7 linked regions of the Homo sapiens genome follow. The protein of the gene in region 6 purifies or fractionates together with the protein of the main gene of each other region. This does not show direct contact. Each region holds a gene or a part of one and is shown on either strand. Other genes may lie near its edges.

Evidence for each region.
Region 1: the proteins of TCP10L (region 6) and CLTCL1 purify together in Homo sapiens (affinity purification with mass spectrometry; 2 studies listed by BioGRID and IntAct, with this or other methods). This does not show direct contact.
Region 2: the proteins of TCP10L (region 6) and KIF2C purify together in Homo sapiens (affinity purification with mass spectrometry; 2 studies listed by BioGRID and IntAct, with this or other methods). This does not show direct contact.
Region 3: the proteins of TCP10L (region 6) and HOMER1 purify together in Homo sapiens (affinity purification with mass spectrometry; 2 studies listed by BioGRID and IntAct, with this or other methods). This does not show direct contact.
Region 4: the proteins of TCP10L (region 6) and NIN purify together in Homo sapiens (co-immunoprecipitation; 3 studies listed by BioGRID and IntAct, with this or other methods). This does not show direct contact.
Region 5: the proteins of TCP10L (region 6) and CCDC6 purify together in Homo sapiens (affinity purification with mass spectrometry; 2 studies listed by BioGRID and IntAct, with this or other methods). This does not show direct contact.
Region 7: the proteins of TCP10L (region 6) and KIF20B purify together in Homo sapiens (co-immunoprecipitation; 3 studies listed by BioGRID and IntAct, with this or other methods). This does not show direct contact.

Annotation. Positions count from the first base shown.
Region 1 is NC_000022.11:19,236,220-19,239,719, forward strand, and holds part of CLTCL1 (clathrin heavy chain 2), read right to left. Parts: intron 3,170-3,500; coding exon 3,056-3,169; intron 1-3,055. UniProt on the Homo sapiens protein: Clathrin is the major protein of the polyhedral coat of coated pits and vesicles. Two different adapter protein complexes link the clathrin lattice either to the plasma membrane or to the trans-Golgi network.
Region 2 is NC_000001.11:44,742,837-44,746,336, forward strand, and holds part of KIF2C (kinesin-like protein KIF2C), read left to right. Parts: intron 1-3,500. UniProt on the Homo sapiens protein: In complex with KIF18B, constitutes the major microtubule plus-end depolymerizing activity in mitotic cells. Regulates the turnover of microtubules at the kinetochore and functions in chromosome segregation during mitosis.
Region 3 is NC_000005.10:79,507,635-79,511,134, reverse strand, and holds part of HOMER1 (homer protein homolog 1), read left to right. Parts: intron 1-117; exon of another isoform or gene 118-748; intron 749-3,500. UniProt on the Homo sapiens protein: Postsynaptic density scaffolding protein. Binds and cross-links cytoplasmic regions of GRM1, GRM5, ITPR1, DNM3, RYR1, RYR2, SHANK1 and SHANK3.
Region 4 is NC_000014.9:50,758,163-50,761,662, reverse strand, and holds part of NIN (ninein), read left to right. Parts: intron 1-1,303; coding exon 1,304-1,806; intron 1,807-3,032; coding exon 3,033-3,500. UniProt on the Homo sapiens protein: Centrosomal protein required in the positioning and anchorage of the microtubule minus-end in epithelial cells. May also act as a centrosome maturation factor.
Region 5 is NC_000010.11:59,795,057-59,798,556, reverse strand, and holds part of CCDC6 (coiled-coil domain-containing protein 6), read left to right. Parts: intron 1-3,500.
Region 6 is NC_000021.9:32,579,024-32,582,523, reverse strand, and holds part of TCP10L (T-complex protein 10A homolog 1), read left to right. Parts: intron 1-108; coding exon 109-324; intron 325-3,500. Other genes in the region: CFAP298-TCP10L (uncharacterized protein LOC110091775), read left to right, coding at 109-324. UniProt on the Homo sapiens protein: May be involved in transcriptional regulation. Has in vitro transcription inhibition activity. Acts as a tumor suppressor in hepatocellular carcinoma (HCC) cells.
Region 7 is NC_000010.11:89,767,590-89,771,089, forward strand, and holds part of KIF20B (kinesin-like protein KIF20B), read left to right. Parts: intron 1-700; coding exon 701-802; intron 803-1,148; coding exon 1,149-1,299; intron 1,300-3,500. UniProt on the Homo sapiens protein: Plus-end-directed motor enzyme that is required for completion of cytokinesis. Required for proper midbody organization and abscission in polarized cortical stem cells.

The sequences.
Region 1 (3,500 bases), on a different chromosome or scaffold from region 6:
AGTTTTAAAGACAATATTTTGTCCAACCACTCTCAAATAAAGGTCCAATAAACTCAGGCTACTCCATTTATCTTTCAGGTAGAGCGATCCTTTCACAGTTTATCGAACCCCTTTAAGCAAGCTGTGAGTTCATAAGAGAAGGGGAAAGTTCTGGACAAAGACCTCAAACGCCAAGATGATGTTCCAGCATGCCTTCTACCACCACTTATTAACCTTTGAGTTTTGCCAAATGCTATTAACTTTTACAGAAAAATATTTAACACACAAGAAAACCTGAAGGGGCTGGGGAGAAAAAACAGATGCATTTGCCCAACCAGATTATTAAACATATATATTAAAACAGACAGTAATTTTTGAAGTATGATTTTACCACTGGAAGAGACAGAGAGAGAAAATAATTAAGAGCCCTGAAAGAGAATGAATCATATATGAGAATTTATTAAGAATGAGTGTGTGGTGGCTAATGACTATAGTCCCAGCTACTTGGGAAGCCAAGGCAGGAGGATCACTTGAGCCCAGGAGTTTGAGTCAAACCTGGGCAACGTAGCAAGACTCCAACTCTAGAAAAATAAATAATTAGTAGGTAACATATTAGTGGAAAATAGGCACTTTAATCAATATATAACATATATTATTAATATAGTTAGCTAGCTATCTGGAGATGGAGGTAAGAGTAAAGAACTGAATTTCTATCTTACTCTTTAGATCAAAGTAAATTCCAGATGGGTCAAAGATTTTAAATAAAAAACAAGGACAATTAGGATAGGAATGAAAGAAAATATAGGTAAATGTTGTGATCATCTTCAGGTGCAGAATTAGTCTCAAAACATGATACCACTGCCACACAAAAATGCAGCACTTCCATAAGGTGCCACATATCACAAATTACGACTGGGAAAAATATTCAAAATACATCAGACACTTAGTACTCTACAAGTACAAAAAGCTCTTACGAATAAGGTAAAAATCCTGGAGTTGGGCACAGTGACACACACCTGTAACCCCAGCTGCTTGGGAGGCTGAGGCAGGAAGATCGCTCGAGGCCAGGAGTTCAAGACTGGCCTAGGCAACATAGCAAGACCCCATCTCTACTTTTTAAAAAAAGATCCCAATAGAAAAAAAATGCAAAGATTAGGAAAAGGCAATTAACCGGATACATATGAGTGGCTGATACATCAATTCTGCCTTGATGGTAACCAAGGGAAAGACATCACAACATGGGATGCTGTCCAGCTACCACCGGCAGCATCAGTAGGAATGTGAACTGGCCAGCATGGTCAGGAGAGTCTGTGATGAGAGTGTGCCCCTGACCCAGCAGTTTAATTTCTAGGAATTTATCCTCGGACTTTTAGACTAACATACAAAGATGTATGGAGCACAATGTTCCTTATAGTGTTTCTTGTAAATGTAAATACCAATCAACAGGGGATTGTTTAAATGAGTTGTAGCAAATCCACAGAACAGATGACACAGACAATAAAATACATACATTATGTTACTGGAACAGAATGATCTACAACATAGCTAGAGGAGTTTATACAGCAGCAAGGCTAGTGCAGAGCCATTTTCATAAGAGTCCATCTGTATAAATCTGCACAAATGTATGCATGTTAAGTTACTTCCAAAGGGGTAGCCAAATTATCAGCAGTGCTAGGATTTCAGGTGATATTTAATCCTGCTGTTACATTTATTGATATTATTAGAAATGTACAGATAACATATATTTTATGAGAACAAAAGAGTAAAAAGGAGAGTAGATTATATAATCTTACATATATAATGTGATGCCAATTTTGTTCAGAAAAGGTATAGATCTAAATTTTTTATAAAACAAATTGTAAGATTTTTTATTTTTATTCTTATTTATTTATTTATTTATTTTTTGGAAATGAAGTCTTGCTCCAGGCCGCGGTGCAGTGGCATGCAGTGGTGTGATCTTGCCTCACTGCACTCTCTGCCTCCTGGGTTCTAGAAATTCTCCTGCCTCAGCATCCCATGTAGCTGGGACTACAGGTGCACACCGCCATGCCCAGTTAATTTTTTATATTTTAGTAGAGACGGGGTTTCACCATGTTGCCCAGGCTGGCGTCGAACTCCTGAGCTCAGGCAATCTGCCCGCCTCGGCCTCCCAAAGTGCTAAGATGACAGGTGTGAGCCAACGCGCCCGGCCAAGATTTCTTATATATTTTACATCCAACTGGTTTATCTACAGAGGAATGTTTTCTGACTCTGTGCCTTTGACACTTCCACAACAATATTCTGCTCCTCAATAAGGAAAGCACACTTGATCCTGTCACGAACACACTTAGCACACACGGAACCACCACAGGCCCTGCTGACATGTGTTTCTGTTTTAGGGAACCTCACAAGAACTTCAGGTCTCATAGCACGAACTCCTCGAAGTCTGGCTAGGCACATGCCACATGCAGGTTCAGGTGTTTTCCCAACCTTCTTGATGTAAAGGTGAATAATTCTCCCACCAGGGGCTTGGGACTACCTAGTTTCACTAGAGGCTGCGTGTCAAAGGCTGGGCCATTCTGAATGCCAGCTCAAAGGACTGTCCCTGGGAGCTCTAGGCTCCCTCAATGGCAGCCAATTGTAAAGGAAATAAGTGTTTTATTCTTTTTTTTATTATTATAAGTTCTGGGTTACATGTGCAGAACGTGCAGTTTTGTTACACAGGTATACACGTGCCCTGGTGGTTTGTTGCACCCATTAACCCGTCACCTACATTAGGTATTTTATTCTTTAAATATTCTCATACCACAGTGAACATCTAATCTTTTATAATAAGAAGGAAAGAGCTGAGGACTTTGATGTGTGACTTGGCAACGTCTTCCTGCTGCCCTAACTCACCCTCATGCCGGGCATTCCTTTCTACGAACAGGGCTTTCCCAGCTCACACGCCAAAGCCTTAGGCCTCTAAATGGGTTTGAAAGCATCACAGTGGCAGGAGACAGCAGAAGCAGACTAAAAATGGCAGCCTCCTGTATCTTGGGAGGTGCTAGAGTAGATTTTAGGACATGAAGATGTTTAGAGAGCAGCACATTCGTACCTGCATAGCCACTGGAAAATCATTCTGTGCCTCTGGAGGAAAAAACACATCTACTGCTTTCTTTACAAAAGGTTGGTTTCCCGCTGCAGGCTGTCCAACTTCAATGATGTGCAACTAGAAGAGAGATTTTAGGTCAATCAAGGGGACCGCCTGTGGTGGTGGGCAAGTGCTAGTCAAGGCACAGAGGCAAGTGGAGCCTCAGCTCCACACACTGGATGATTAACGCTAAAAGTCACATTCAACCAAAGCAGAACAACCCCCTTGTCGGAGTGCCTGTGATTATCCAATAACCTGCTGCCCACCACCAAGCATGGCACAAAGGGCCAATGCCAGGCAGCCTGGAGCCTCAGTTCCAGCACAGTGGCAGAGTCACTTCCCCTCCCCGGGCCTGGATGCCGATGAAACAAAGGGCTCCAGTCAGAATCTGCTGTCCCTTCCAACTCTG
Region 2 (3,500 bases), on a different chromosome or scaffold from region 6:
AACCTGGTTGAGGAGACAAAAAGACGTTTCTGAATCACCAACTAACCAACTAACAGAAGACAACTTGTGATGAATGGCACAGATGAGCATTGCTAGAGCAGCTCAGAGGTGGAAACTTGCTGAGAATGGGCTGGGCTTAGAGGGTGGAGTGTGAAGGCTTAGCTGAAGCAGCAAGATGGCACACATGGGGACCATGAAGAAGCTGGCCACGAGCAGTGCAGGGCCCAGGATGCTTGGCAGCCGCAAAACAGCTGAAAAAGGAGACAAAGGTCTTCATGTCTGGCACTGAGCTGGTTAGGTTTTCTTCTGTAGGCAGTGGGGAACCTTGGAAGGATTTTGAGGAGAGCACTGTGACTAAGACATTTCTGTTCTAGTGGCATTGTGGTGTAGTGAAAAGGTCACTGGGCTAGGAGTATGAAAACCTGGATTCTAGTCTGGCTCTGCCACTGCTTTGTGTTCTCAGGCATGTTTCTGCCCCTCTTCGAAGTTTAGTTTCCTCATCTATAAAGTGAGGATGATAATAATGTCTACCTCACAGGGTTGTTGTGAGGATTTACTCAGCACATTTTTTGGACTGCTTCCAAAATGCTAGACACTTATTGGGTGCTAGGGATACAGAGGTGAAGGAGACAGACTCTTGGACTCTCTTCCATGGAGCTTAATAAAATAATACATGTAGCTGGGCACAGTACCTGTAATCTCAGCACTTTGGGAGGCTGAGGCAGGAGGACCTCTTGAGGCCAGGAGTTTGAGTCCATCCTGGGCAAATACAGCAAGACCTCATCTCTACTAAAAATAAAAAACAATTAGCCAGTCATAGTGGCTTGCGCCTGTGGTCCCAGCTACTCCAGAGGCTAAGGCAGGAGGATTGCTTGAGCCCAGGAGTTCAGGGCTACAGTGAGCCACTACACTCCAGCCTGGGTGACAGAGTGAGACCCTGTCTCAAAAACAAATAAATAAAAAAGATAAAACATGTAAAAAGCTTGCTTAGCATAGTACGTATAGTAGAGATATTTAGGTGGTATATTTGAGAAATAAAAGGATTGAATACTTTCCATTATCTGCCCCTAAAGAATTAAGAGGTTCCTAAAATTCCTTTCAACCAGCTATTATCAGTCTTTTGTGATTTGTTTTTGTTGCTTGTTTAGAAATATATCCCTTGTTTTACCTCAGATCAAATACTGCTTTTGGAATAAGATCCGAACTTCTTAGTGGGGCATTCAGAGCCTTTTCAAGCTCTGGTTTTTTTTTTTGTTTGTTTGTTTGTTTTTTGAGACAAAGTCTCACTCTATCGCCAGGCTGGAGTGCAGTGGCACGATCTCCCTCAGTGAGCCGATTTCGGCTCACTACAACCTCCATGCCCCAGGTTCAAGCAATTCTCCTCACTCAGTCTCCCAAGTAGCTGGGATTACAGGCACCTGCCACCACACCCAGCTAATTTTTGTATTTTTAGTAGAGACAGGGTTTCCCCATGTTGACCAGGCTGGTCTCAAACTCCTGACCTCAAGTGATCTGGCCATCTTGGCCTCCTAAAGTGCTGGGATTACAGGCATGAGCCACCACATGTGGCTCAAGCTCTGATTCTAATCACCCTTTTTCTTTGTACCACATACTCTTCTTCCACATATCCTATGCCCTGGCAAATGAGGCAGTTTACTGCTCTGTGACTGCCTAATTCCCTGCTGCCTTTACACTCTTATTCCTTTCTCCTGGGATGTTCACCCTGAATTATCAACATGAGAATCAGTTGATTGTCAGAGCAAGGCTTAAAACTCTGGTTTTCGCGGGTCGTGGTGGCTCACACTTGTAATCCCAGCACTCTGGGAAGCTGAAGCGGGCGGATCATGAGGTCAGGAGTTCAAGACCAGCCTGGCCAATATAGTGAACCTGCATCTCTACTAAAAATCCAAAAACTTAGCCGGATGTGGTGGTGCGCACCTGTAGTCCCAGCTACTCAGGAGGCTGAGGCGGAAGAATCGCTTGAACCCGGGAGGTGGAGGTTGCAGCGAGCTGAGATCGCGCCATTGCACTCCAGCAGCCTGGGCGACAGAGTGAGATTCCGTCTAAAAAAGGCCGGGCGTGGTGGCTCATGCCTGTAATCCCAGCACTTTGGGAGGCTGAGGTGGACGGATCACCTGAGGTCAGGAGCTCAAGACCAGCCTGGCCAACGTGGTAAAACCCTGTCTCTACTAAAAATACAAAATTAGCTGGACATGGTGGCGCATGCCTGTAATCTCAGCTACTCAGGAGGCTGAGGCAGGAGAATCACTTGAACCTGGGAGGCGGAGGTTCCAGTGAGCCGAGATCATGCCACTGCACTCCAGCCTGGGCACCAAGAGTGAAACTCCATCTCAAAAAAAAAAAAAAACCTCTGGTTTTCTTTGTTGTTTATGCTCTCTGTAGTTTAGGGGTTAGAAATGGGGGAGGTATGTACCAAGAGTCTGTGGCTGTCCCAGAAGTGTGGATAGAAGTGTGATTACTGAAGTGCTTGCCAGCTTTTGCATTTAGTGATTCTATCCTCCTTTTTTTTTTTTTATTTAAATCTCATTCTGCTTTGATTTCCTTTGTACATATGACTTATAATCCCCATTAGAAATTGAGCTCATGGTGGCAGGGGTTGTATATGTCTTTTTTTTTTTTTTTTTTTTTTTTTTGAGACAGTGTTTCGCTCTTGTTGCCCAGGCTGGAGTGTGATGGCGCTATCTTGGCTTACTGCAACCTCCGCCTCCCGGGTTCAAGCGATTCTTCTGCCTCAGCCTCCCGAGTAGCTGAGATTACAGGCATGCATCACACCTGGCTAATTTTTTATTTTTAGTAGAGACGGGGTTTTTCCATGTTGGTCAGGCTGGTCTTGAACTCCCGACCTCAGGTGATCTGCCTGTCTCAGCCTCCCAAAGTGCTGGGATTACAGACGTGAGCCACCACGCCCGGCCTATATATGTCTTAATTCATCTTTGACTACCTTCCCCCTGTAGGCTGCTGTCTTCGTGGTGCCTAACAAATGTTTGAATAGGCAGCAAATAACTGCAGATTTCTTTTTTCTTTTTCTTTTTTTTTTGAGACGGAGTCTCGCTGTGTCGCCCAGGCTGGAGTGCAGTGGCGGGATCTCGGCTCACTGCAAGCTCCGCCTCCTGGGTTCACGCCATTCTCCTGCCTCAGGCTCCTGAGTAGCTGGGATTACAGGTGCACGCTGCCACACCCAGCCAACTTTTTGTATTTTAGTAGAGACAGGGGTTTCACCGTGTTGCCCAGGCTGGCCTTGAACTCCTGAGGTCAGGTAATCCGCCCACCTCGGCCTCCCAAAGTGCTGGGGTTACAGGCGTGAGCCACCGCACCCAGTCCTGCAGGTTTCATCTCTAGGCAGTAAAGCCCTCACCCTAGAGTACATGCTTCAGCTCTGTCACATTTTGAAATACAAAGTTGGGACAAATTTAATATGTCTGAACCTGTTGTAAAGCTATCCTGGTGAAGTTTGAGTTGTTCCTGGAGAATTGCAGGAC
Region 3 (3,500 bases), on a different chromosome or scaffold from region 6:
ATTTTGTCTAGACTGTGGAGTAGTAGCATCATGGAAGAAAATCAGTTTTCCAGAACCTTTAAGCTGCATGAATGCCTGTCATTTTACCAAGGGAAGCTTAGGATGAATTTTTTTTTCCCTGCCTGAGGTTTCTTTGTACAAATAGCACAGGAGGACCCCAGCCCCACAGCCCCATGCAGATGGCAGCCTGGCGGGGGGTCGCACCAGTCCTGTCCTCACGTTGGCAGATAGAGATATCTACTCTGAAGCCTCTGTAGGGGCCTGGGCACCTTTGGGAGCCTGAGCTGGAACTGAAGCTGGAGCTGCAGCCTGGGCCTTGGTTTGATCCTTGTCCTTGGCCTTTGGCCAGCACACCCTGAGCCCCTTGGCAATGCGGGCACGAGCATGCTTCCCAAGCTTGGGGTGGACAGTGTAGGCAAGTTGAGCTTGCGGCTGACACCCTTTGGGATCTTGGGCTTAACCTCCTTGGGCTTTAGGAGGGCCTTGATAGCCTTGGCATGTGCACTCATGGCCTTGGCACTGTTAGCCTGCATCTTCTTTAGGCCCTTCTTGTTGTGTTTCTTGGCAAACTGCATGTTCCTCAGGAACTTGGGGTCCACCCCCTTAAGAGATTCGTATCTTTGTGCTTCGGGTTTCTTGATACCATTTCTGTGCCATTTTTGGGACTGGTTGTGTGTGGTGTGGTTCTTGGACTTGGCCATGTCTGCACCTTAAGGCGCGGCTCCTGAAGCGCCTAGAATCTGAAGAGACAGGATGAATTTAATACTAAGGGGGCTGTTGTTTAAAGTGGGAAAGTTAGCACCACACATAACATGCATTTAGACACTTAGCATAATTAATTTGTTTATAAATGAATGTATCTGCCCTTTAGTTAATAAAGTTCTATATATGGACTGAGGAGAAAAAGGAGCGAGCATTTTGTGGTGCTATTTTTTTTTTTTTGGAAAGCCTGTATTTGGGGCTATGACCCTTTCTCATTGATAGTGACTTGAGTAGAGAGAGGAAGGGTAGATGGAAGTAGAAGAGCATACAGCAAAGGCATTTGCTGACGTTTCCACACTTTATGCGTATTTATGCCTAATAAATGTTTGTGGAATTAGCATAGCTGCCTGGACCTATTTCAAGCAAAAGGAAACAGGGCTTTAAATGGCTTTTAAAGCTTTACCTTGGCAATCCATAATTACCTTACTGTAATAGATATCTAAAATTTAATACTGTGGGTAAAGTGTTTCACATATTACAACCTTCTTTTTTTAAACTAATGTTAGGTTATAATAAGGATTTATCTTCGTCTTAATTGTAGATAATTATTGCAAGTCTAGGGGCAGTCTAAGCAAAGGAATTATTTTTAATAAAATCAGTGATTGGGCAGAAAAAAATTATGGCTCCCCTAATAGTAGTTTATGAACTTTTTGGAAATGGAGAAGAACAGCTGAAACTTGACAGTTGGCAAAGTCTGTCAAAGTATCTTGGATGTTGCATGAACTGTTAATTGCAGTGAAGGCAACTAAAGTATGGGTTTGTAAAATAGGTGTATCAGATCCCCTAAAAATTAAGGCATTCATGTATGTAAAATGAAGTCTCTGAAAAGTTTTGAAGCCTCAGTGAGGAGCCCCTGTTAGGTATGACCCCCACCCCCACCTCCAAATAGTATCTCATAATGACAGCAGTGAGTCAGTAGCTATTTCAGAACTATCACAGTAGGCAACAGAAATCAAGTAACTTCAACCACTTATTTCATGAAACCCTTTGTTTTTACTTAGCTCATTTTGGCAACCTAGTGCCATCAGCAATGGTAAAGAATTCTTTCCCTCCCTTCCCTTATTAAGAGCTACTTATACATAAAATGGGGCTCTCCCTGCTAATGGAATCTGTTAATGCTGTTTCTGATTTATCTCACCTGCCTATGGGAACTTCTGGAGTCCTTCCTTCCCCTCTTTCCCCAAATAACTTCCAGAAGCATGGAAATGAGTGCTGCTACATTGCAGCCCAAACTGAGTCTCTTTGCTGAAAGATGGGAAGCTGACACCTCCTTCTGCCTCAAACTGCAGGGTTCTGCTCTCTAGGGGTTGTAGCAAAAATGTGAAAATCTTGATCCAGCACTATAAATGGGTTTTATTGCAAAGATAACCACCCTATCATATCTGACAATAGACAACTTAGATGCAAGTCCTTAATTCGTCATTTGTTCATTTTACCAACTTTGAACCTTTGTTATAGTGCGTGTACTTACCTCAGTGCTGCTGATAGGAAGGCCAATACAATGTGCTCCTTCCCTTAGTGAGTTTATACTTTGGAAGTTGGGCAGACAGTCAAGCCTAAAATTAAAATGTGCAATGAAATTTTGTAGGAGCTATAATGTAGGGCATTATGGAGACACAAAGTGTGTGTTGGGGGGGCATTAGCTGCTGAGGGAAGGATAAAAAGGCTTTGTAGAGGAGGTGATAGTTGTTAAATACTGAAAGATGAGTACAAGTGAGCCTCTTAGACAAATAAGAGGGCATTCAAGGCAGAGAGAACAGTGATTGACACCACTAAAACGAGGAACTGCAAAGGAGTTTGGCATGACAAGCTTGTTTGCTTGAGCTAGCTCCCTTTGGTGTAGCAAGAGATAGGTCTAGAGCCTTATTATGCAGGGACTGGGTTGGAGAACCATGTAGATCAAATGAAAGATTGGATTATCCTGTAGTTTAGTGTGTTTAGAGGTTTTTTTGGCTATGACCCGTTGGAAAGATAAGCATCTTTACATTGCAACCCAATATGCTTGTATATAAATGATAAAATGTCACTACATAATACCCTTGCTTTGTATGGTACACTCTGGTAGTTTCTATTCTGTTCCGTTCTATTTTATTTTTAAGATAGACTGATGATGGTGACCCACTCAATTTATTTAATGACGCTGTGTTAGCAACTGGTAATTTGAAAAGCACTTCTCTTCTGTGTGAAGATTACTAAAGGGTTTTAAGCAGAGTAAGAACATGATCAGGGAAGTAGAATAAGAAAGCAATTTTAAAAATCATTTACAATTTGGTTTTGTGTCTTGTATCCTGTGGAAACACCAAGCCAGAACAATGAACTCTGGCTGGGTAGAGGAAGTGGACAGTTGGGCAGGCCCTGGAAGGTTCCGAAGTGGGGAGGGGAGGGATGGTGACTGAGAGATGTGTAGTTGGCTGAACGGGGCTTTTTCAGAATTAGGACATTTCATTGGAGAGGTAAGAATGTAGCAAAGAGCATGGTATGTTCTTAGCAGAGTCACTAACTATGGGTCATAAAATAGTGAATTTGGGAGTTAAGGGGTTGACAGAAGAAACTGTCCTTATTCATAGTTTATAGTTTTGAGTGATTAAACATCTCAGAAGAAAAGGTGGTTATATCCCAAAAGGTCTAACCTCTCTACTGCCATGTGATTTTTTTTTTTTTCAGTCTTTAGTGTTTAGTTGAAGTATTTATTTTTAGTTACTGGATTGTTATTTCAGATTAATATGACTAACTGGACA
Region 4 (3,500 bases), on a different chromosome or scaffold from region 6:
GATGGTTTTGTAGGCTGACAGCAAGGCCCCTTTTTTCTGGAGAGTTTCTCCAAAATGTAATATCTTCAGCCCTGGCAATCATGGAACTTGAAGCTTGAAACCCATTATATTATCTCCCAATTTCTTTTTTAAAAACATCTCAGTGAAACCAAAAAAAGCCCTTTGATGTTTCATTGCCTACTAAATTAGGTACAAGTTCTGAACCTTGGCCTCTAAACTCTTCACCATGAGACTTCAACTGACGTTTCCAGTCCAGACTTCAACTGACCGTTCTTATGAGTTACCTTATCCTCCAGCTAAATTGGGTAGTTCCTAGTTGTCCATCACACTCTGTCCTCTTTTGCTTGTGCTGTTACAAACTATGCTGATATTAGTTTCTTTCTGCCTCTCGAAAGTCTACTTACCCTTCAGGATTTATATTTAATGCTGCCTCTTGCATGAAGCCATTCTTGAATTTCTCCAACTAAAATGTGATTTTTTTCCCTCCTTTGAGTCCCTGGGTTACATTGTAGCTCTTTTTTGTATACCTTTTATTTTCTGCCTCCTACTGTACTTATAGTTGTCATATCCATGTCTAGACTGGTTTCTCCTGGATAGCAGGGACCATATCTTACCCAGCGTTGTATTCCGAGGCCTGCAAGTACCTGATAGGTGTTCAATTAATATTTGAATTTAATTAAGTATTTTAAGACCCAGCAGGGTACAGTGGCTCATGCCTGTAATCTCAACATTTTGGGAGGTCGAGGTGGGCAGACCACTTGAGCCTAGGAGTTCAAGACCAGTCTGGGCAACATGGTGAGACCCCGTCTCTACCAAGAAAAAAAAATTAGGGCACGGTGGTGTGTGCCTTTAGTCCCAACTACTCAGGAGGCTGAGGTGGGAGGATTGCTTGAGCCCAGGAGATGGAGATTTCAGTGAGCCATAATTACGCCACTGCACTTCAGCTTGGGTGACAGAGTGAGAACCTGTCTCAAAAAATATATATGTTCCAAGACTCAAGTTTACAGTTGGAAAGGATGCATGGGAAGACAGAGGGTAGCTATGTGTAATGGCTGCTCAGTTCTTAATAAGGTTGTTCAGACACTAATAAAATTCAGCCACTTAAAAGAGATATGTAAACCATGCCTGACTTAAGTATCTTGCTTAAAGTGTTGAATTCAGTTACTTTAAAACAAGATAGAGAAATGAGAAATGTCTTGTAGGGAAAAAAAAAAAAAAAAAAAAAGCAATTGCTGCTCCATCACTTCACTTTCAGTGACCTTGAGCTGAGTAATCTTGTGGTGGTGTCACTCTGTGCCTTCAGGTGCGCCATTATGAAAAGCAGCTGGACGAAACCGTGGTCAGCTGCAAGAAGGCACAGGAGAACATGAAGCAAAGGCATGAGAACGAAACGCACACCTTAGAAAAACAAATAAGTGACCTTAAAAATGAAATTGCTGAACTTCAGGGGCAAGCAGCAGTGCTCAAGGAGGCACATCATGAGGCCACTTGCAGGCATGAGGAGGAGAAAAAACAACTGCAAGTGAAGCTTGAGGAGGAAAAGACTCACCTGCAGGAGAAGCTGAGGCTGCAACATGAGATGGAGCTCAAGGCTAGACTGACACAGGCTCAAGCAAGCTTTGAGCGGGAGAGGGAAGGCCTTCAGAGTAGCGCCTGGACAGAAGAGAAGGTGAGAGGCTTGACTCAGGAACTAGAGCAGTTTCACCAGGAGCAGCTGACAAGCCTGGTGGAGAAACACACTCTTGAGAAAGAGGAGTTAAGAAAAGAGCTCTTGGAAAAGCACCAAAGGGAGCTTCAGGAGGGAAGGTAAGAAAGTGAAGGGAAATGAAGCTACCTGGGGCACCATCCCTCGGGGCATTAGAAGTGCCAGTTGTGGCTGGGCGCGGTGGCTCACGCCTGTAATCCCAGCACTCTGGGAGGCCGAGGTGGGCGGATCACGAGGTCAGGAGATCGAGACCTGGCTAACATGGTGAAACCCCGTCTCTACTAAAAATACAAAAAATTAGCCGGGCGTGGTGGCGGGCGCCTGTAGTCCCAGCTACTCTGGAGGCTGAGGCAGGAGAATGGCGTGAACCCGGGAGGCGGAGCTTGCAGTGAGCCGAGATCGCGCTACTGCACTCCAGCCTGGGCGACAGAGCGAGACTCCGTCTCAAAAAAAAAAAAAAAGTGCCAGTCGCTTAAGAGACTTGAAGAAGTCAGAAGGCATAATAGCCCATTGATTGAGTAGACTCTTTTAAATATTTTTTTACTGTTTTTGCCATTATTTTGATGTGAACCTACCTTGGGATGATTGGAACTGTTTTTATTTTGTTATGTTTGTAAAAGAGGAAAGTATTCCTCGTATTAAGATTTATTCTACCTTATAAGGCTCAAGAGGAGGATAAGATTATCCCAAAAGTGGTTCCTTCCTAGTTCAATCCTGTTGCTTTCTGAGAAAAGCTATTAATAAACTGGATTCCAGGCAAGGTTACATTTCCTCCCAGAGTTAAGAAACAGCACTCCATGCTTACATTCCTCATGTGAAATCCCAGGTTTATTTGAGGGCTTTGTTTCGTCACACGCTGATTGACTTGGTGCTACTTCGTTAAGTAAGAAGCAAAAGCAGAATGAATTTGTTCATATGTGTCATTTATGTGACTGATATCCTATAACGCATGCTTAATTAAAATGAAGGAATGGTATATATTTCCCAAGTGAGGAATTAGATTAATATACATTTGGTCATTTGTCTTTGGTTTAAAAATCCATAAACAAATACATCCGGGAGTGTGCCAGAGAAATTAGTTTCTAAGATTTCCCCCTAACTCCAGAGAGAGGTAAGTCTTTTAAATGAATTATGGCTGCCAGTCTTAGCTTTCAGAAATGAGATCCCTTTCCAGTATAAATGAATCACATAGGAGTAAGTTAAGAGCATTTTTAGGGAGTATTTCAGTTGTTTGCTCAGCAGCTTTCTCAGTGCATGGGAAAATGGTTTTTGTTTGCTTCTGGAGTTGGCGGCAGTTTCAATAATGCTGTATGTTGACTATATTTAGGGAAAAAATGGAAACAGAGTGTAATAGAAGAACCTCTCAAATAGAAGCCCAGTTTCAGTCTGATTGTCAGAAAGTCACTGAGAGGTGTGAAAGCGCTCTGCAAAGCCTGGAGGGGCGCTACCGCCAAGAGCTGAAGGACCTCCAGGAACAGCAGCGTGAGGAGAAATCCCAGTGGGAATTTGAGAAGGACGAGCTCACCCAGGAGTGTGCGGAAGCCCAGGAGCTGCTGAAAGAGACTCTTAAGAGAGAGAAAACAACTTCTCTGGTCCTGACCCAGGAGAGAGAGATGCTGGAGAAAACATACAAAGAACATTTGAACAGCATGGTCGTCGAGAGACAGCAGCTACTCCAAGACCTGGAAGACCTAAGAAATGTATCTGAAACCCAGCAAAGCCTGCTGTCTGACCAGATACTTGAGCTGAAGAGCAGTCACAAAAGGGAACTGAGGGAGCGTGAGGAGGTCCTGTG
Region 5 (3,500 bases), on a different chromosome or scaffold from region 6:
ACCACTTAGTTCCCAAAGACTTGTCCTTTATCCCAGACCTCCATTTTGTAAATGTGAATAAAAACTCCACAATTGGAAATGGAAATATGTCAAATAGAAAGCATCACTAATTCATAGTCAAATCACAAAATAAACTTTTAGTATTAGATGCTGAGGGCACAGAAAAGTCCTGCGATAATAGCACAACTAAAGGAAGGCTTGGCTGAATATCTCTGTCATGGAAACAAAAAAGACAGATGGAAGAGCATACTTAACAGCTTCTTGTTTTTACGTAATTCAGAAAAGCAGTAAGTGGAGTTCACATTGCTTGGCCTCTAATAGCTGATAGTATGTTCAGAGTAATTGTCAATAGGTGATTCCTATCCACATTTCCCCAGACAGCTCCTCTGTTTTCCCTTTTCACTTTGCCAGTATGGAACCTACCCTGTGCAAGGTATTGTGGTAGATGTTGGGAACTCAAAGGTGTAAAGAAAGCTAGCCACATTTGTGCAGTGATAAAACAAGTAATTCCCCAGACCGGCTGGTGACTTCTGCACTGACTCTTGACGAGCAGGGCTTCACATGCCACATGTAGGTGAGGATCGCTTTTAGATGTTCTCAAAATATGGACCCCAATCCAAACCTGTCTAACAGTAAGGAGAGTCTGGACATACAGATGTTAAAACACAGTGGAGATGATCCTGGACTCCTACATGAAGACTACACAGAACATTATATTGGACTGGGGATTGTTTCTTCCTTAAATACCAGGTTCTTTTAGGGAACATTGGCAGGGCTTTCATTCCTTGTATTGAATATTCTCAAGTCGTGATATTCCCAGTGGTTTTGTTTGCTGTTATGGCTGAGACACACACACACACACACACACACACAACACTCTCACTCTCTCTCTCTCTCACTCACTCATGCCCACACTCTCCCTGTCTTCTTCTTGTTGATTTTTTTTTTTTTTTTTTTTTTTTTTTTTTGCTAGGAGGTTCAGTTCATTGGCTACTTAATATCTATCTCCAGTTTGGTCAATTGTTGATACATCTTTTGACATTTCTGGTTTTCTTGCATTTGATATTTACTCCTTTGCTCGATTTTCTCCACTTTATTCTTGTTCTTTCTCATGTCTTTTGCTTTCCTGAATCTCAGTTGAATTCCTGACAGGGTTTGACTTAAAAAAATCATTATTGTGGTGAGACCTCTCAATATAAGATCTATCCTCTTATTTTTAAGAATACAATACAGTACTGTTAACTGTAGTATAATGTTGTGCAGCAACTCTCTGTAGTTTATTCGTTTTGCTTAACTGAAACTTGATGGCTGTTGAGCAGCAGTTCACCGCCATTCTACTCTGTGTCTATGAGATTGGCTATTTAAACTCCTCATATAAGTGGAACCAGGCAGGATTTGTCCTTCTGTGACTGGCTTATTTCACTTAGCATAATATTCTCGAGGTTAATATATGTTGTTGCATATGGCAGGATTTTCTCCTTTTAGACTGAATATTCCTTTATATGTCTATATATATCACATTTTCTTTATCTGCTCATCCGTTGATGGACAGTGAGGTTGTTTCCACATTTTTTTTTTTTTTTTTTGAGATGGAATCTGGCTCTGTCGCCCAGGCTGGAGTGCAGTGGCACGATCTCAGCTCACTGCAAGCTCCGCCTCCCGAGTTCATGCCATTCTCCTGCCTCAGACTCCCGAATAGCTAGGACTACAGGCACCCGCCACCATGCCCAGCTAATTTTTTTGTATTTTTTTTAGTAGAGACGGGGTTTCACCATGTTAGCCAAGATGGTCTCGATCTCCTGACCTTGTGACCTGCCTGCCTCAGCCTCCCAAAGTGCTGGGATTACAGGCGTGAGCCACCGCTCCAGGCCTCCACATTTTTGCTATTGTGAATAACACTGTAGTGAATATGGGAGTGCTAATATCTCTTTGAGATCCTGATTTCAATTATTTTGTATAAATACCCAGAAGTGGGATTGCTAGATCATGTGGTACTTCTAGTTTTAATCTTTTGAGGCATTTTCATACTGATTTCCATAGTGGATGCACCATTTTACATTCCTACCAACAGTGTATAAGGATTTTTTCTCCGTATCCTCACCACCACTTGTTACCTTTTTTTTTCTTTTATACAACCTACAAATTGGGAGAAAATTTTTGCAACCTACTCATCTGACAAAGGGCTAATATCCAGAATCTACAATGAACTCAAACAAATTTACAAGAAAAAAACAACCCCATCAAAAAGTGGGCGAAGGACATGAACAGACACTTCTCAAAAGAAGACATTTATGCAGCCAAAAAACACATGAAAAAATGCTCACCATCACTGGCCATCAGAGAAATGCAAATCAAAACCACAGTGAGATACCATCTTACACCAGTTAGAATGGCAATCATTAAAAAGTCAGGAAACAACAGGTGCTGGAGAGGATGTGGAGAAAGAGGAACACTTTTACACTGTTGGTGGGACTGTAAACTATTTCAACCATTGTGAAAGTCAGTGTGGTGATTCCTCAGGGATCTAGAACTAGAAATACCATTTGACCCAGCCATCCCATTACTGGGTATATACCCAAAGGACTACAAATCATGCTGCTATAAAGACACATGCACAGGTATGTTTATTGTGGCACTATTCACAATAGCAAAGACTTGGAACCAACCCAAATGTCCAACAACGATAGACTGGATTAAGAAAATGTGGCACATATACACCATGGAATACTATGCAGCCATAAGAAATGATGAGTTCATGTCCTTTGTAGAGACATGGATGAAATTGGAAATCATCATTCTCAGTAAACTATCGCAAGGACAAAAAACGAAACACCACATGTTCTGACTCATAGGTGGGAATTGAACAATGAGAACACATGGACACAGGAAGGGGAATAACATCACACTCTAGGGACTGTTGTGGGGTGGGGGGAGGGGAGAGGCATAACATTAGGAGATATACCTAATGCTAAATAACGAGTTAATGGGTGCAGCACACCAGCATGGCACATGTATACATATGTAACTAACCTGCACATTGTGCACATGTACCCTAAAACTTAAAGTATAATAATAATAATAATAAAAATGAATAAGAAAAAAAATAATAATGGCCAACTTAACAGTTATGAGGTGATATCTCACTGTGGTTTTGATTTGCATTTCCCTGATGGTTAGTGGTGATAATCGTCTTTTCATATATCTATTAGCACATTTGTGTATCTTTTTTAGAGAAATGTGTATTCAAGTTCTCTGTGCATTTTTTCATTGGACTATTTGAGTGTGTTTGTTTGCTTTGAGTCATAGGAGTTACTTATGTATTTCGCATATTCACCCCATACCAGGTATATGGTTTGCAAATATCTCCTCCCATTCTATAGGTTGCCTTTTCAGTCTGTTGACTGAAAGTTTCCTTAGCGCAGACACTTTTTAGTTGAATGTAGTCCCACGTATTTGTTTTTGCTTTTTTTTTTTGTTGCCTATGTCATATCCAAGAAATC
Region 6 (3,500 bases):
CCAGAAATAGTGTTGGTCTTACATCAGAGAGGGCTTGAGTATTTTGCAGATAAATGTGCCCATTGTGACATCTGAGAGGTTTTTCTGGTGTTCTCTTCCCAATAACAGCCATTACAGCAGCAGATCATCAGACTCCACCAAGAGCTTGGGAGACAGAAGTCTCTGTGGGCTGATGTTCATGGAAAACTCCGGAGTCATATAGATGCTTTGAGGGAGCAGAACATGGAGCTCCGAGAAAAGCTGAGAGCTCTGCAGCTGCAGCGGTGGAAAGCCAGGAAGAAATCTGCAGCGTCCCCACACGCGGGGCAAGAATCGCACACTCTGGTACCAAAAGCGCATTTATGTTTTTGTACCGTTTGCGTTATGTAAAAATAGCGTCCCCATAAAGATGTGGGCTTTATTGCTGAATGACGCGGTATCACTCACGCTCCGGGTGGTGGGAGGGGTTGCTATCTTTCCATCAACTCCATTTCCCGTAAGTAATGATTAATAAGAACTGGATACATCAGGCCTCTCACCTGGCACTCCAGCAGACAGAAGCATTGCCGCCCCCAGGCCGTGTGTCTCAAGTCCAGAATTCTAAGACATCTCATGATGTCTCAGGACAACAGCAGCAAACCCTTACTGTGGACTTTACATGGGCTAGGTACGGAGCTTTACGGTCTTACTCTCTATGACGACCCTATGAAATGGATCCTATTACTAACCCCATCGTGGCCACGGGCTGGAGAACGTAGAGCTGGGATTTGAACCCAGGGTGACTCCAGAGCCAGCTCAGTAGCCTGGTGTCCTTCTGTTCATCCTCTAGGACAGCTGTGTAGAATGCAATAGAGACCTGTTGAAACGGGAAAAGTTCCCTTGTCCCCCTCGCAGGGTGTGCGATGGGGGTGTGGCTCGCTTCTTTGGTTCCCCACTGCTCAAACCTCTAGGGGAGTGTACAGACCGGCAGGCTATGGGGCTCTGACCCCACGGCAGTGTCTGGGGGTGAATGTTTCCAGCTGAAGCCCCAGAGGGTGTGTGTTACAGTGCGGGAGCTCTTTCAGTTTACCCCTCCGTAGGCAGCTTGTGTTTATCAGCTCAATTAGACCCTCTGCCTTATCACAAGGACAGAGGGCTTTCTGTATCCTGGGTTCTTGCCTTGGTGTACCTGAAAAATCAGATCACACATGGGCTTGGAGGATGGGTGCAAGGTTTTTTATTGAGTGGTGATACCTGTCAGCAGATGGGGGAGCCAGAAGGGAGATGGAGTGGGAAGGCAGTTTTCCCCTTGGGAGTTGGGCTGCCCAGTGACCGGGCTCTCCCCTGACCACCCCAAGCAAACTCCGTGTCATTCCGCCAGTCGATGGCCTGCTGGCGTCTGCTGTGTCTGCTGGTGTGCTCTTCTGCCGGTGTGTTCTTCTCGACATCCAGCCGCTTGGTCTCTGCCCGCTAGGGTCTTGGGGTTTTTATAGGCATAGGATGGGAGTGTGGCAGGCCACGGTGGTCTTGGGAAATGCAACATTTGGGCACAAAAGCAGAAATGCGTAGGTCCATGGGCACAGGCCCAGGGGTCGAGCCCTAGCCAGGGACCCCGTTCTTCTCCACCCAGGACTTTCCTGCCCCCATCCTGTATCACTAACCTGCTCTATCCCGAACGAAGAACCAGCATTCTCATGCTGAAGTAGTGGGTGCCTCCCAGCACCAGCCTGCCTCTACAGAACACTGAGCTTTCACGTTTGATCACACCGCTCAAAGAACCAGCCTAAGAGAGTGTGAATGTGGCCAGTGTTATCACTGCCTTGTCTGGGTTCTGTTTCCTGCATATGGATCTAAATAACTTGAATCATTAAAATTATACATACAGGTAACAACACATGAAACCACATGAACACCCTCCAAACGTAAGTGGGGATATTTCTTAGTGGATTAAGAAAAGTACTAACATTTCCTAGCTGCATTTATTGTGTGAACTTTTAAATCGGTACTTCCAGGACTTAGAATATTTCCGATACAGCACAGTGATTACAACACACACACACACACACACACACACACACACACACACACAGGCACCCACCGAATACATTCCAGAGGAGACTGCTCTGTGGTTTGTTCTCCAAGCACAGCAAAAACAGCCACAGCTGGGCGCGGTGGCTCACACCTGTAATCCCAGCACTTTGGGAGGCCGAGGCAGGTGGATCGTGAGGTCAGGAGATTGAGACCATCCTGGCTAACACGGTGAAACCCCGTCTCTACTAAAAATACAAAAACATTAGCCAGGTGTGGTGGCGGGTGCCTATAGTCCCAGCTACTCGGGAGGCTGAGGCTGGAGAATGGCCTGAATCAGGGAGGTGGAGCTTGCAGTGAGCCGAGATCGCGCCACTGCACTCCAGCCTGGGGGACAGAGCAAGACTCCGTCTGAAAAAAACAAAACAAACAAACAAAAAAAACTGCCACAAGTTCCTCTACAAGAAATTACGGGAAATCTTGGAAGTTATTCCCACTCTTCGGGAGCTCTGCGAGAGCTTTGTTTCCATGGAGATGGCTTCTGCTGCCTCAGAAAGAAAGTGAGTTTAGCCTCTCAGCACAGCAAAGCGCCGAGTCCTTCTGCGGAAGGAAGAGCAGAAGCTGGGCAGGCTGTTCCTCTGTCAGAGGAAGAGTGGGGGAAATTGCCACAAATACTGGCCGGGATTGTCCACCTTCTGTGGGGAGAACCCAAGAAGACTCACAGGGATTTTTTTCCCTACATATATTGTATGCCAGTTCCTAAAAAATAGTATCTACTGCCCCATTTGGGTCATTGTATAACAATTACCCTAAGAGTCAATGAAGTCTTATTCAGTCTTCACATGCCCTGCAGTTTTGATCATTCTCTTATTTTGAGATTAGAGCTTGGTGAATTTCCAAATATTTTTCCATTCTGTGCATTGCACTGGTCACCGTGGGGCTATTTATAAGAACAGGATGTACGCTCACAAGAGCATACCTGATTTGAAGAAACAGGATGGGATATGTGAATCCCACACTTTAAATATGCGAAGGTGTATCTGTGTGTAGTCGCCGTTTTAGGGACTGAATATCTAAAAGGCTGAGACTCGAGCACCCACAGAACGCGGGCATGGCTGTGTGGGTGAGCCACTCTGGATCTGATATTAAGGGTTCGTTCATAGCAACCCTCTCCCCTTCTCATTCCCTTCTCCTCCTCAGAGGGCAGAACGGTGAATAATTTAGCATTCCAGACCTAATATACCTCATCCCACCTGAAGGATCACCCTGTTCCAGGTCAGTCTGCTGATAACAGGGAAAGTTGGGAATTTGCATTTTGGATCTTAGACAAGTTGTAGAGACAACACTAGAAGTAGTATCACATTTTCTTCCTCCGTTAACACACTCCCGGTTGAAGACACAGGAGCCTAAAGGAAGATATGTTGGGGATTGTTTGTTCTGTAGCCTTTGGGATCCTGTGATCATTTTGAAACAAGGAACCACAATAAGAAACACAAAGCAAACATCGGCTCCAC
Region 7 (3,500 bases), on a different chromosome or scaffold from region 6:
ACAACTAGGATTTGCAGCAGTTCAAGTCAGTGAGTATATCTGTAAAGGGCTTTGTCCTATGTGAGGTTATTTGGGGAAAAGAAGAGTAAGATGCCATACCCATGTTGTAGAGAAGAAAGATAATATTTTAAAAGTTTTAACATTTTACCTTTGGTTATTTGAAGTTTCGTTTTTATTTTATTTTTGATATTGTCAAATGTCAATGAGAGAACTTAGACATAGATGCTTGTATTATTTGGGAGTTAGGCAATAGGTAGGTATATTGTATGCTGTATTTTAAAGCTCAGTTTCAAATAAAAGATATTCCTTCCATGTTTTTCATTTAGCTTATGTAATTTCATTACTTGTGATATGTTTGAAAAATTCACACCTTCAGTCAGGGTTTCTCAACTCCAGCACAGTTGACATTGTGGGCTGTATACCTCTTTGTTTTAAGGGCTATCTATCCTGTGCATTGTAGGGATGTTTAACAGCATTCCTGACCTCTACCCACTCGTGGCCAATAATATCCCCTTCTCCCTGGCAAAGACAACCAAAAATATCTTCAAACATTGCCATTGTCCTCTGAGTTCAAAATTGCCCTCGGTTAAGAGTCACTGTTTTAAGTGATAATGTAGCTTTTTACAAATTTTCTTTTTTGAGTCTAGAGAAATAAAATATTGTCAAGAAATTAACTGGTGCTAAAATTCATTATTTTTAGGACTTGGTGAAATGTGAAAATAAGAAGAATGCTACACCCAGAACTAATTTGAAATTTCCTATTTCAGATGATAGAAATTCTTCTGTCAAAAAGGAACAAAAGGTGTGTCTTTTAATTTGTCCAAAATTGTAGCAATTATCCAGAAATCCAGTTGTGTTCAATTATAACTCATTTATCTTCTCTTTCCTATACATCTGATTCAGTTGAAATGTAACCTTTAGCATTTGGCCAGTAGCATCTACTTTATGTGTTTACTTCTGACTTTAACACTCTGCCTGTCAAACTCTTTTTGCCATTGTCTGACCCTTTTATCCCTGTCCTTACATACTTAAAGTTTCCTACCTGAGAATTCATAACCTGTCTCTGGCCTCTTTAATTCAGCTGTGGCCATAACTATTTCCTTCTAACACTTCTCATCAACAATAACAAAAAATGTTTTGTTTATTAGGTTGCCATACGTCCATCATCTAAGAAAACATATTCTTTACGGAGTCAGGCATCCATAATTGGTGTAAACCTGGCCACTAAGAAAAAAGAAGGAACACTACAGAAATTTGGAGACTTCTTACAACATTCTCCCTCAATTCTTCAATCAAAAGGTTTGCAGAAAATTAATTAAATGACCTTTTTTTGTTAGATGTTGGGTATATTTTAATACCTAATTGATATATAAACTCAACAGCTGTTCAGGGAATATTATACTTCAAATAGGCATTGTCCTATACTAGGTACTGTGGGAAGAAACATGTAAAAGGATGATAGATCTAGGTGTTCGCTATGTAGTAGAAGAGAAAGGCTTGTATTTAAGTAACTGATCCAGAGCAGGCTACTTAATATAGTAATAGGGGTATAAGCAAAGGTATGATAGTATTGGAGGGAAAAGAGCTACTCTGATTAGGGGGCTTTGGGAAGGTTTTTATGGGAGAGATGGGATTTATCCTGTGTATTGAAATGTGGGCAGGAGTACACTCTCTAGGGTGTCCAAGGGTGAGAATACAGTCATGGGTTCTTAGTTTCTGTTTTTGGTTGGGGCAGGAAATCCCCTTCCTCATCCCTGTTTTCTGCTTATCACTAGAGACAGAAACTAAAAACCATGGCTTCAGGCCGCTAAAAGCCTAAAACAAAACAAAACAAAACAAAACAGAACAAAAACAACAACAAAATAAGGTGGGTTGGACAAGTTTGCCAGTATTAGTATTATGGTATATATCCTCCTAGTGTTTTTTTTTCTGTGCATATGTAAACATTATCTGTTTATGTACAATATGTCAAAAACACATTATTTTCATAAATACCTATTGAGTTTAGCTGCAGAAACAGTATGCTTAGTGCTTTTTTTCTTGATAATATAATGTGGACATATTGATACCTGTGTATATGTTAAGATATATACACATGTGTGCACATATGCGGAAGGAATGGTTTTAACACAGGTGGAGTATCAGAAAAATGTAGGAAATGTTCATGCAATTACAGGCAGCAATACACATCTGGCATGTAGAATGTGGAAGGACTATCTTAGGGGTGAGATGGAGTAGTGGGTTTTTGTGAGGTTACCTGAATGACAGCAATAGGATGAATTAGAGACCAGAGTGAGGGGTATAGGGAAGGAAAGGAACTAGAAGCAGGGGGCAGTTAAATTGAATCAAATATGTTGTGTGAAAATACTTTTTGTCGAAGGCTTACCACAGACGTTTCCAAACTTTGTTGGTTCACAGTGCCCTTAATGTCTCAGTAATTAATTTCCATTTTGCCTCTGCACCCAAAGAACCACTAGTAGTCTCATGCATTAGAACTTAAGACCAAACAACCACTGAAAATTCAGCTTCTGAAAATCCAGATTGCAAAGATAATGTCATAATGAAAAGAAATGTAATTCAGTATCGTTTTGAAATTGAACTACCTTGGGCTATTGAGCATCACTATTTTCCCTGAAGATTGAAAATATCCTGAGGTGCTTCTGTAAGTTTGCTGCAGCATGCCTTAGTACACAGTTTGGGAACTTCTGACCTATCAGACCCATTTGTATATTTACATACATTTAAAAAAATATGTACATTTAAAAAATGTGTTTGTATAAACAGAAAATATCTGGAGGGACAAACAGCAAACTGTTAAATATCTAAATTTGGAGAGGAGGGACATCTTTCTTTAGAGTCCTTTAGGCTTACTACCACTTTTATATTAAAAAGAAATATATTTTCAAGGAGAGGTAGGTACCTATAATAAGTATGTAATCAGATAAGGGTAATGATTCTCTTACTTCATTGACTTGGTTCCTTAACAGCTTCCCTACCAATGCACTTGACATACATTTTTTTTTTCCTTTTTTCTTTTTGTTTTTACTTATTTCTAGAAATATAAGATATCCCTATTTTGAACTGTAACTGTAATACATATTTGTTGTTTTGGGTCACTTGGAAATATAGAGAGAAAAGAAAAAATGGAGATTAATTTTTAAAATTCTGCTGCTCTGATAACCACTGTTAATCCATCACTTAGTATCACTGGTCTCCCAGCTTGCCCCTCTTGTCATCTCCCATCCATTCATACATGACAGAATGTTCTTTTCAAAGTGCAGATTGAATTATGTTACTCCTCTGATCCTTTAATGATTTCTCATTCTTCTGAATGACCTGATTTCTGACTCTCTCCAATCTATCTCTTATTATTCTACGGTTTGATAACTAGCCAGCTTCAATCCTGCTAACTTCTGACAGTTCCTAGAATTTGCCAGCTTCTTTCTTACCTTCATATCATTGATTTCTTTTGCTTTTTCCTGTGCTTTCTTTTATCTGGA